Homo sapiens: one gene and its partners. The protein of the gene in region 2 purifies or fractionates together with the protein of the main gene of each other region. This does not show direct contact. Each region holds a gene or a part of one and is shown on either strand. Other genes may lie near its edges.

Region 1 (3,657 bases), on a different chromosome or scaffold from region 2:
AGGATTGGGGGACGGGAGGGGTAGTGGGGACGGGAGCTGGAGAAGGGGAAGGGGCTTGCCAGTGATGATGGTGGTCGGTGGGGTGACAGGGTTTTTGGGGTGAGGCTGGGAGGGGCTGGGGACGCGTGCTGTGGGACTCAGGGCTGACGGTAGGGAGGGGCCTGGTGGGGACAGAGGCGGGTAGGAGGGGCTCTGCAGAGTGCAGATGATGCGGAGGAGGCGGTGAGGGTGGGGCGGGGCTTGGAATCAGGATGACAAAGGACCGGGAGTGAGGAGACCAATGGCTTGGTGGGGAGAGTGGGGTGTTGGGAGTTTGGGCAGATGCTGGTCGGGCTTTGAGTCAGGATGAGGGGGCTTGGGTAGTGGCTGGAGGACGATGAGGTGATGAGGTCGATATTGTGTCATGACGATGGCGCAGGTGACCAATGGATGGGTGACTGTGAGTTGTGTGTGGGTGACTGATGTGACTGACTGTAGATGACGAAGGTGATGATGACTTAGAAATAAACACCTGGAGCAAGGTAAACACGGCAGGCAATGCTCAATAAAGCTAAGAGTATAGATTCTTATCCAAATAATCTAAGAAGCAAAATATTCCTATCTGGTACCCAAGGGCTGTTTAGCTGTCCAACCCCAAAAGCTGAAAAGCTAAACAGAGCTCTGTCCCATTTCTTTCTATTTTTGCAAAAAAGATAGATGCTCTTTGTTAAAAAAAAAAAAAAAGTCAAATTCAAAATTCAGAAGCTGGCTAGGTCTTTTGAGATCTGAGGATTATTAACTCAGCAACACAAATGTAAACCCATGGCTGTGTGGGCCAGGTCTTGGACCACATTTGCCACAAAACTAGTAAGCGCCCCACAAGTGACAATTTCCACTAATCCCTGTGAAAACCTTGGTGAGGGCTGTGTTGCTGCTCAGATTCTGCCAGGGGCACTTGCGGCTCAAAGTACATTCAAGTCTCAAGGGATGTCTCTATAGGGTAGAGGCAGGTATAGTGTTGGGGTTCTGGGTGGGCAAAGAGGGGTGGGGGAGGGCTGGCTGCCTAAGTGGCAACTCCAGATGGCACATTATGACTCAAAGGGGCTATTTTTTCCCAAAAGGGAAGTGGGCCAGGAGGCTCCCCACTTTGAGAAACACAGTTAGGATAAATTTCAACATCAAGCGTTCATCCAGGATAGGCCAAAACCTTTCGGATCCCAGGATGAGAATTCGTCTTCATCAGATCCCAATTGTTGGGGTCAGGAAGTGTTTTGGTTCATACCCCCTCGTTCCTAATTCAGAGTTTTAGAGCCAGAGAGGACCATGGTGGTCGGTGTTCAAACCCCTCCCTCGAGAGGGGCGAGAAAGTGGGCCCAGGATTGGGATAGGGACTCGCCAAGGATCACACAGCGAGTTAGTGGCAGGGCTGGCACAGAGGCCCGGCCCCCCAGCAGCCAACCTGGGGCTCTCTCTGACTGACACACAGCCGCTGCACTCCGCTAAATCTCAAATCAATCGGAAAGATCTAAAGGTAGCGATGTTGAGCTGGATGTGAGTGCGAGTCGGATGTGGTGTGTGAGAATTAACGAACGAAAGCAATCGTAGCTCTTTGCACAGTGGGTGGTCATGTACAGCACTCGTAACGGTTTCACGAGGACCATGTGGCCGAGACCCCCAGGGTAGGGGCGTCGGCACTGAGCCCTGGTTCTGTTGCCTTGTTTTTTTTTGGTCTTTTTTGAAATTTCATTTGAGTTTAGATTTTAGAATAACATACTTATTTCTCTTACTCATTTAAAGATGAAATTCTTATTATTATTCTGTATCATGCATTAAGAGAGAGAAAGAGGATTGTTTTTGCATTGCGTTTGTCACACAGCAGCACAAAGACAATATATGTAAGCGTAGCGTTCACCAGATTTGACACAAGAGATAGCGAACACCACAAAGATTAGGACAGACCGCGTATAGTAAGCTCTGCGGAACTCCAAGAATCTAGAGGGGGCTGTGGGAACGCTGCTTAGATCTCCTCGTCGCCGGCCTCCTTGCTGAAGGTGGTCATGTCGATCTTCTCGGGGAAGATGATGTTGACGGCCAGGTCCTCCCCGCTGTTGTACTGAAGCAGCAGGTTCTTCTTCTTCCGCAGCATGTGGTTGTAGCGCAGGTTGGACACCCAGGTCTCGCACTTGTTGAGGAAGACGATACCCACAGTGCCCAGCACCACCAGGCTGGTGAGCACGCCCAGGATGGTGAAGCAGATGGCCTGGCCCTCGGTGAGGAGAGGGGTTTTCTTGTTGAGCTCTTTCATGGACACCTTCAGGATGCGGTGCTCCGGCTGCTGCACCGGCAGCTCGTGCACCCCAGGGGTCAGGCGGTAGGCCAGCCCATAGCCGCTGGGCAGACGGGTGACCTGCTGGGGGCTCAGCGCGCGCTTCTTGACACAGGTGAGACCTGTGAACTCGGGCTTGCACAGACACTCGTAGCTCACCTGGGTGTGCTGCAGGCAGGTGCCCCCGTTCTGGCACGGGCTGCTGGCGCAGTTGGTCACCGGGCGGCTGCAGGTCTTGTCGATGAAGCCGGCTGGGCACCGGCAGCGGAAGTCGCCCCCAATGTCAGTGCAGACGCCGTCGTTCTCGCATGGGTTGGGGGTGCAGCTGTTGGCCACGATCTCGCAGAAATTGCCTGAGAAGCCAGGGGGGCACAGGCAGGAGGCATGGGAGGCCCGGCCCTCATCATCCACGCAGGTGCCTCCGTGCTGGCAGGGGGAGCTGCAACACAACAGGGACATAGTAAACGGCCTCAGGGGCTAGGCTACAACAGCGCTGCAGGGCACGGGGCTCAGGGCAGAAGGTCCCTGGCCTGACTAAGGGGCAGGTGCTTAAAACACATCAGGTGAATGAGGGAGCGAGGGAGGGAACGCCAGCCAGGGAGGCACAGAGAGGTGCCCGGGGCCGTGACCCCTGTCTGCGAGAAGCTCACCAGTAGCTCTGGGGGTGGGTGGGTGGGTGCCCACCTCACCCCCATCTCGATGCTAACCTGGGACACACCCGACCTCCCATGCCAGGATGCCCACGTCCTCTCCCACCTCTTACTGCACCTCTCCAACCAGAGGTTAGTCTCCAACCGGTTAGTCACTAGCCAACTGGGGAAACTGAGGCTAGGAGAGGAAAAGTCAGTGACAGCCCAGGACTGGAGCAAGCCCCCTTCCCTTAGCTCCATCCCTGGACTGCTGGGGCAGAAGAACCAAGCAAGGGGCGCCCCTCACTCTATCCCGGGACCCGCTGTCGTCCTTCATGCCTATGTCCACTGTTGCCGCCAACCCTCATTATTATTATTATTATTATTAGCGGTGTGGATCCACAGGCTATTGTGCAGGAAGCGCTTGGGGACTCTCAAAGAGAAAGCAATACGAGGTCTGTCTACGGTGGCACAAGCCAGCGTCTGTACCAGGCTGTTTAATAGTGGTCCATTCACCCAAGTGCAGCTTGCAAACCAAAGCTGTTTGCTCAAAGTGGAGTACAAGGAGCATTTAATGTAAGTGCTTTTAAACGAGCGAGCCCTTTGTCATCCGATAAATGGCAAAACTCCGGGGAAGAAGGGGCAGTAAACACAAGAAATCAGCACTGCTGCTTCAGGGTGTGGGCTGCATGGGAGCTGGGCTCTGAAGGAATTTCAAGGGCC
Region 2 (3,657 bases):
AAAATTGAAATTACTTTTTCATTTATACCTCACAAAGTATTCATTAACAGCTTGATTAATATCTTTTATGATTTTTCATAACTATACAGTTGCACATATATACACAGATGCATAAAGGTCTTTTTGCTATAAAAATGGACTTACACTATATATCTTATTTTGCCCCGATTTTCATTCAGCACCTCGTCATGGACATTCTTTCATGTACCATAAATGGTTTTAACATTCACCTATTGGTGGATATTTACATTGTCAAAAACTGCTGCACTGAATACCCCTGGATAAGCTCCTCTGCACTTGTTTGAATGGGAATGGCTGGGTCTAATACAACATGTGTCTTCAATCTAGTAAAGCCCAGTCAACCTGTTTGCCATGGAATTAACCCTCCTGAGTCAGAAGGCAGAAATAATCCCTTTGTTTCCTCACCTGTAAGTGAAGTCCACTTCCAACGTTAAAGCAGATCTGTAAAATAAAATTATTTGATATTTAGCCAATTTACTGCTCAATTCAGTGTGAAAACATTGTTCATGAATAACCTACTGCATTGAATATTATAGACATAAAAAAAGTTTAACCACTACTACTATTCTTTGTCAAGAGGAAACTAATTTTTCCCATTGCCTTCCCTAATGGGAAGTGCCCGAGGAGAAATCTATATTCTCCTGGATCCATACTGACTCCTCCAGAAAACAGTATCTTAAAAAACAAACAAAATAATCTGCCTTGTGAAATCTTAGACATTCTCTCATCCTTTACTCCGCATCCTATGGTTTTTATCTTGTGTTCTCCAGGACCTGCTTACTTTTCCTCGAGGCCACCAGTATGTAATGTACCCCACACCCAGCTAACTCCCACCATCCCTATGGATGTGTGTGCATTATACACACACAAAAAAACACACACCACACACACACGGACAGCCCATGTTCTGACTTCTCGGTTCCTCAGCATCCTCAGTCCCACCAACTCTTTTCTTTGGTTCTTCATAGGCACTGTCACACTTGGGACTTCATCATGACCTAGTACTGTTCTAAATACAGTTATGCTTACTCTTAAATTTGCCCAAAAAACTCCCATCTTGCTTTCTGAATATTTTGCACTGTAAAATAATAATTTTAAAAATTGATGCATTAAAGATGTGCATAGTTTTGGAATACATGTGATAATTTAATACATTCATATAATTTGTAAAGATAATTAGTATACTTGGGATGTCAATTACCTTAAATACTTGTCTTTTCATTATGCTAGAAACATTTAAATAATTCTCTTCTAGCTGCTTTGATATGTATAATAGGTTATTGTAAACTATAGTCACCCTGCTGATCTATCGAACTAGTGTACTTATTTCTAACTAGTGGTCTTATTTCTTCTATCAAACCATATATTTGTACCCATTAATCAATTCTTTTCTTCCCCCACCTCCCCACTACCTTTCCCAGTTTCTGGATTCTATCATTCTATTCTCGATGCCCATGAGATCAAAACTTTTAGCTCCCACATATAAGTGAGAAGATGTTGTATTTGTATTTCTGTGCCTGGCTTATTCAGTTAACATAATGACCTCCACTTCCAGCCATGTTGTTTTGCTGCAAATGGCAGGATTTCCTTATAGTTCATTAATCTCCCTGCTGGCTTCCTTCTTCTCTTGGCTCAATCTGAACCAGCACTTTCTAATATGGTAGCTACTTGTGGCTATTTGGATTTTAACCGCAATTATTTGAAATGAATAATCCAGTTGCTCCACAGCCACATGTGCTAAGGGCTACCCATTTGGACAGGGCAGACAGAAAACATTTCCACCGCTGCACACAGTTCTACCGGAGCAGCTAGCAGACTGCTGCCTGCCACTCTGAAGATGTTGTCAGTGACCACCAGGGAGGCTTCATTTTCATGACTGCTATTCCTGCCTCACTTTTCCTCTCAACTCTAGAAACCTATTATTCTCTTTAGTTCTGACCATGTACTGGCAATATCGCTAGAGGAGGCCACAGTGGCTGAATAGATCCCTTACACATTCATGCTCTCAAATAGCTGCTCTTTCCATGGGGTGGCGGTTCCTTTCTAGTGTGACCATATGTCTGCATTTGCTCAGAAGAGTCTAGGTTGACACCTGCTGTGAGGCATTCCATCTGTTAACAACCCTTTCATCCTCAAAAGTGTGCTCACACTATAAATTATATCGTCACTTTGTCATTGCCTTACCCTTATTGCATTTCTAAAATAGGCATTCCAAACTTTAGGAGATGACTCTAGTCACACCTCTGTACCTATTCACTCTTATGAGATGACCCCATGTATTATTTGACTGAGACTATCTTCAGTCATCCTCTCCTTCCCTTCTTTCCCCACAGAAGAGGTGTCCTGACTCCTTTCCAAGGCAAACCATCGTTTGTGTGCTTTATTTGCAACTCTATTTGTTCTCCCACATTTATCTTCAAGAACCTTAATCCTTCCACTAACCTTTTATCTTCCTTCTCCATTGGCTAATCAATACATTTATTTCCTTCTGATTGGCAAACCAAATATATTTAGGTTTTCCTTATCTTAAAAAAAAAACCAGATCCCTCTCTTGTTTCTGTTAACAATCTATTGCTCTATATCCCTCTCTTACTTATAATTCCAAATTGAAATTATTGTCTATATGTATTGCTCCCACTACTCCACCTTCCATTTATGCATTAATTCACTGGACTCTGTCTTTGGTGTAGCTTTTCTCAGTTGTTTGCCTTTTCCCATCTGCATGGTCACATGGATCCACAAAGCCCTAGTTGGTACATCATGGGAAACAAGGCATTCCCTAAAATTTCAAAGTCTCTTTCACATCCTTTGCATTCATTTGAAAGCTTCCTGTAGGGTCCATTCCACAAGTGAATCTTTCAGCCTCTTTCTTTCCTTTCCATTGTCAGTTCATGTTCTTGGCTCTCCATTCCAAAGAGAAACTCAAGGAGAGCAGATGTTCAGCTTCTAGTGTGGGCTTCTCTGGGGCAGATGAACAATCATGGCTAATTCTCTATTTTATGATCAGATCTATGATCTCTTCTTCATTCTGTCTACTATTAACTTGCCCAGCTAGCAATGGCCAGAGATGTCTCTAACCAAAGTGGTGCTCCCCAAATTTATGTATTTTCAAAGGTGGCATGGTATGAAAAGCAAGGGAAAGCAATGCTGAGATAGATCACTTCTCTCTGCATGTTCCTTGGGTGGGAATTTTTGAAGAGAAAGATCAGTGCCTGGATCAGAGAGGTCCCAGTGTCCACATCATCAGGGAACAGCCTTAAAATTTAGTATATTTAGGCCGGGTACAGTGGCTCACACCTGTAATCCCAGCACTTAGGGAGGCCGAGGCAGGCGGATCATGAGGTCTGATGATCGAGACCATCCTGGCTAACACGGTAAAACCCTGTCTCTACTAAAAATACAAAAAAATATTAGCTGCCCGTGGTGGTGGGTGCCTGTAGTCCCAGCTACTCGAGAGGCTGAGGCAGGAGAATGGCGTGAACCCGGGAGGCAGAGTTTGCAGTCGGCCGAGATCGCGCCACTGCACTCTAGTCTGGGCGACAGAGTGAGACTCTGTCTCAAACAAACAAACAAAAAAATTTAATATATTTCTTGCCCATCCTTCTAACCATCAGACTCTTCTCTTTGATACAGGCC
Region 3 (3,271 bases), on a different chromosome or scaffold from region 2:
TTTGTGGATAGTGCAGGCTTCTGTCTCGTGGTTGGTAGTGCAGGCTTCCATCTCTTGCTTGAACTTTTCGTAGCATTCCTACGGTTTCTTTCTAATCTGTCTTCCCACTGCTGTCCAAGAGATCTTTCTAAGACACAAAATCTGACCTTGTCATTGCCTTCTTTATAAAATGTTCCTGGCCCACTGCTTTGGCAGTGATTCTTAACTGAGATTTCATATATCAGAATCATGGCCGGGCGCAGTGGCTCACACCTGTAATCCCAGCACTTTGGGAGGCTGAGGGAGGTGGATCACTTAAGGTCAGGAGTTCAAGACCAGCCTGGCCAACAGGTGAAACTTCATCTCTACTAAAAATACAGAAATTAGCTGGACATGGTGGTGCACGCCTGTAGTCCCAGCTACTCAGGAGGCTGAGGCAGGAGAATTGCTTGAACTCAGGAGGTGGAGCTTGCAGTGAGCTGAGATCACACCACTGCACTCCAGCCTGGGCAACACAGCGAGATTCCTTCTCCAAAAAAAAAAAAAAAAAAAAAGAATCACCTAGGAAGCTTTTTTCACTGACACATGCCCTCATCTTGCTTCTGGACGTTCTGATTCAGTAGGTCTGGAGTGGGGCCTGAAAGCATAGAGCAGTGGTTCCCAACTTTGGAAGAGAACCCAAAACAGATGACCAGAGACTCTGGTTCGGTTGGTCTGGAATGCAGCCTGGGCACTGGGGCTCTCTAAATCTGCCCAGTGATGCTAATGTGCTGCCAGGGTTGAGAATCACCACTGCGGAGGAAGGAAGAAGGTTCCAGATTTGAGTGGTTTTGGTACCCACCCCTGGAGCACAAATGGCCGAAAGTCCATCTTCAGAGATGTGAGGCCATCCTAGACCCTTCATGATCTAGTTCTGGATAGCACATAGGATTCATTTTTCATCCAACTTTGATTAATTGATAGTAGCCACCCAGAGACTATGCTGGGTCGGACAATGTGTGTAGCCTGAGAGAGGATTAGAACCCATTAGTGTGGGCGCCATAGCAGGAGATGGGACAGGTGTGGCATGTGTGTCTGACCTTGTCTGTACCTCTTGAATTGTATGTTCTGGAAAGGCTATGCTACTGCATCCCTTCTTCCCTTTAAATAATGGGTTCTCCTTTCTGGAATCCATCTACTTTTGGGGTTTTAAAACAACCATTAAAATGTGTTTGTGTGTGTGTATATATACAGTTCAGAACCATTGCCCTCTGCCCTGGTAGATTAATAACACCCTCCTCTGAGTTATGCCTGTATGTTTTAGTTCATGTCACATTGTTATTTAATCTGTTTATCTCTCTCTCCCCCCCTTTCCTCCTACTAAACTGTAAGCTCCAGCAAAGGCAGTAATTATGTCTCAGGGCCTCAATGGTATCTGACCCTTAGTTGATACTTCATAAAAATGTGTTGATCATGATTGAATTCTTTATCACCTCATTCCTAAATTTAGTGATTGTGAAAGATGCTAGGATAAGTCCTCAAGAATTTAGTTTTTTGAGTCGAATTTTTACATCTTTAAGTGGAACAATTATATACCTATACTCCAGGCCCATATTTCCATTACTTGCTGGCTATTTTTGTCTTGTCGCCTCAAATAGGTATCTAAAACCAGATTTCTATATTCTGCCCCCCGATAAAAACTATCTCCAGATCATCTTTATTTCCTCCCTATTTCTTACCACTCCCCTTCCCCCCAACATCACGCCAGTCTTCAAAACTGACAGCTTCAAAGAATTAGTTTTCGCTCCCTGCTTAAATGATGACGGGATATTCTGGCAGATAAAATAATGTTTTCATCTATTGACAATGTCTCACTTGAAATAGAATAGTCGGTTTTACTATGTTCCAGGAGGAAATGACGTATTTATGAAATGCGCCCTTTGCCTTCTCCTTCACAGATTGATGCTGCCTCATTCACGCTGACATTCTTTGGTCAAGGATACAGCCAAGGCACTGGTACAGATAAGAACAAACCAAATATCAAAATTTGTACTCAGGTGAAAGGACCAGGTATTTCACATATCACTTAAGAATGCTTGGGAATTTTATACTCTTAAGCTATAAAGTACAATGCCATTACAATATATTCTTTTTAAAGCTTAATTGTTTTAGAAATACATTTGTACAAATTAAGTAACTTAAAATTATTCTGTCAAAGGAAGATTGAAATTATTGATATAATCCAATTTTATTAGTGCATCCCTCCCTCTGGCTGTTTTTGGAGTATGATTCAGTAATTCAGAATGGCAAATTTTAATTAGTATTAATAGGAAAAGGGATTGGTTGATATTCACCTGTTTGAATCTCATATGCAAGTAGTGTAATTATAATGTCAGTCAAATCTGTGCTCTAGGATTTCTTTAGAGTCTCTGAACACCCTGACATTGTTTGTAAAATATGTATGCACACGTGCACTTTTCAAGGGAAGGGAATGGCTTCTGATAGGTTGTTAAAAGAATGTTGCCCAAAACGTTCAAGAACTTTTGCTGTACATTTTACAGAACTATGCAGAGACAGACAGGTCCACTTGTGAACTGTGGTATAATTACTGTCAGAGACAGACAGGTCCACTTGTGAACTGTGGTATAATTACTGTCAGAGACAGACAGGTCCACTTGTGAACTGTAGTATAATTACTGTCAGAGACAGACAGGTCCACTTGTGAACTGTGGTATAATTACTGTCAGAGACAGACAGGTCCACTTGTGAACTGTGGTATAATTACTGTCAGAGACAGACAGGTCCACTTGTGAACTGTGGTATAATTACTGTCAGAGACAGACAGGTCCACTTGTGAACTGTGGTATAATTACTGTCAGAGACAGACAGGTCCACTTGTGAACTGTGGTATAATTACTGTCAGAGACAGACAGGTCCACTTGTGAACTGTAGTATAATTACTGTCAGCCCTTTTAGGTCACAGGCTATAATTTTTTATTGAGACGGGGTCTCACTATGTTGCCTAGGCTGGGCTCAAGCAGTCCTCCTGCCTCAGCCTTCTAAAGGGTTGGGATTACAGGCATGAATTGCCATGCCTGGCCCACGGGGGATTTTAATCAAGCCAGATGATAGTATGTTTCCATCTTGCCCTTTTCTGAAATTCCCACCTGACTTTTTAAGGTAAGTTGACTGTATTTTCATTATTTGACAGGATTATAAATGCTAATGTTCCGTTTGTTTATAAACATTTTTTTAACTTATGTTTAGTCGTTATTCTTTAAGAAAAAATTGAGAGGATTTTTTTGTTGTTTTT

What was found.
Region 1: the proteins of DSG2 (region 2) and DLK1 purify together in Homo sapiens (co-immunoprecipitation; one large-scale study listed by IntAct). This does not show direct contact.
Region 3: the proteins of DSG2 (region 2) and SCCPDH purify together in Homo sapiens (co-immunoprecipitation; one large-scale study listed by IntAct). This does not show direct contact.

What each region holds. Positions count from the first base shown.
Region 1 is NC_000014.9:100,733,236-100,736,892, reverse strand, and holds part of DLK1 (protein delta homolog 1 isoform 1 preproprotein), read right to left. Parts: intron 2,745-3,657; coding exon 1,997-2,744; 3' UTR 1-1,996. UniProt on the Homo sapiens protein: May have a role in neuroendocrine differentiation.
Region 2 is NC_000018.10:31,515,044-31,518,700, reverse strand, and holds part of DSG2 (desmoglein-2 preproprotein), read right to left. Parts: intron 463-3,657; coding exon 427-462; intron 1-426.
Region 3 is NC_000001.11:246,762,330-246,765,600, forward strand, and holds part of SCCPDH (saccharopine dehydrogenase-like oxidoreductase), read left to right. Parts: intron 1-1,916; coding exon 1,917-2,028; intron 2,029-3,271.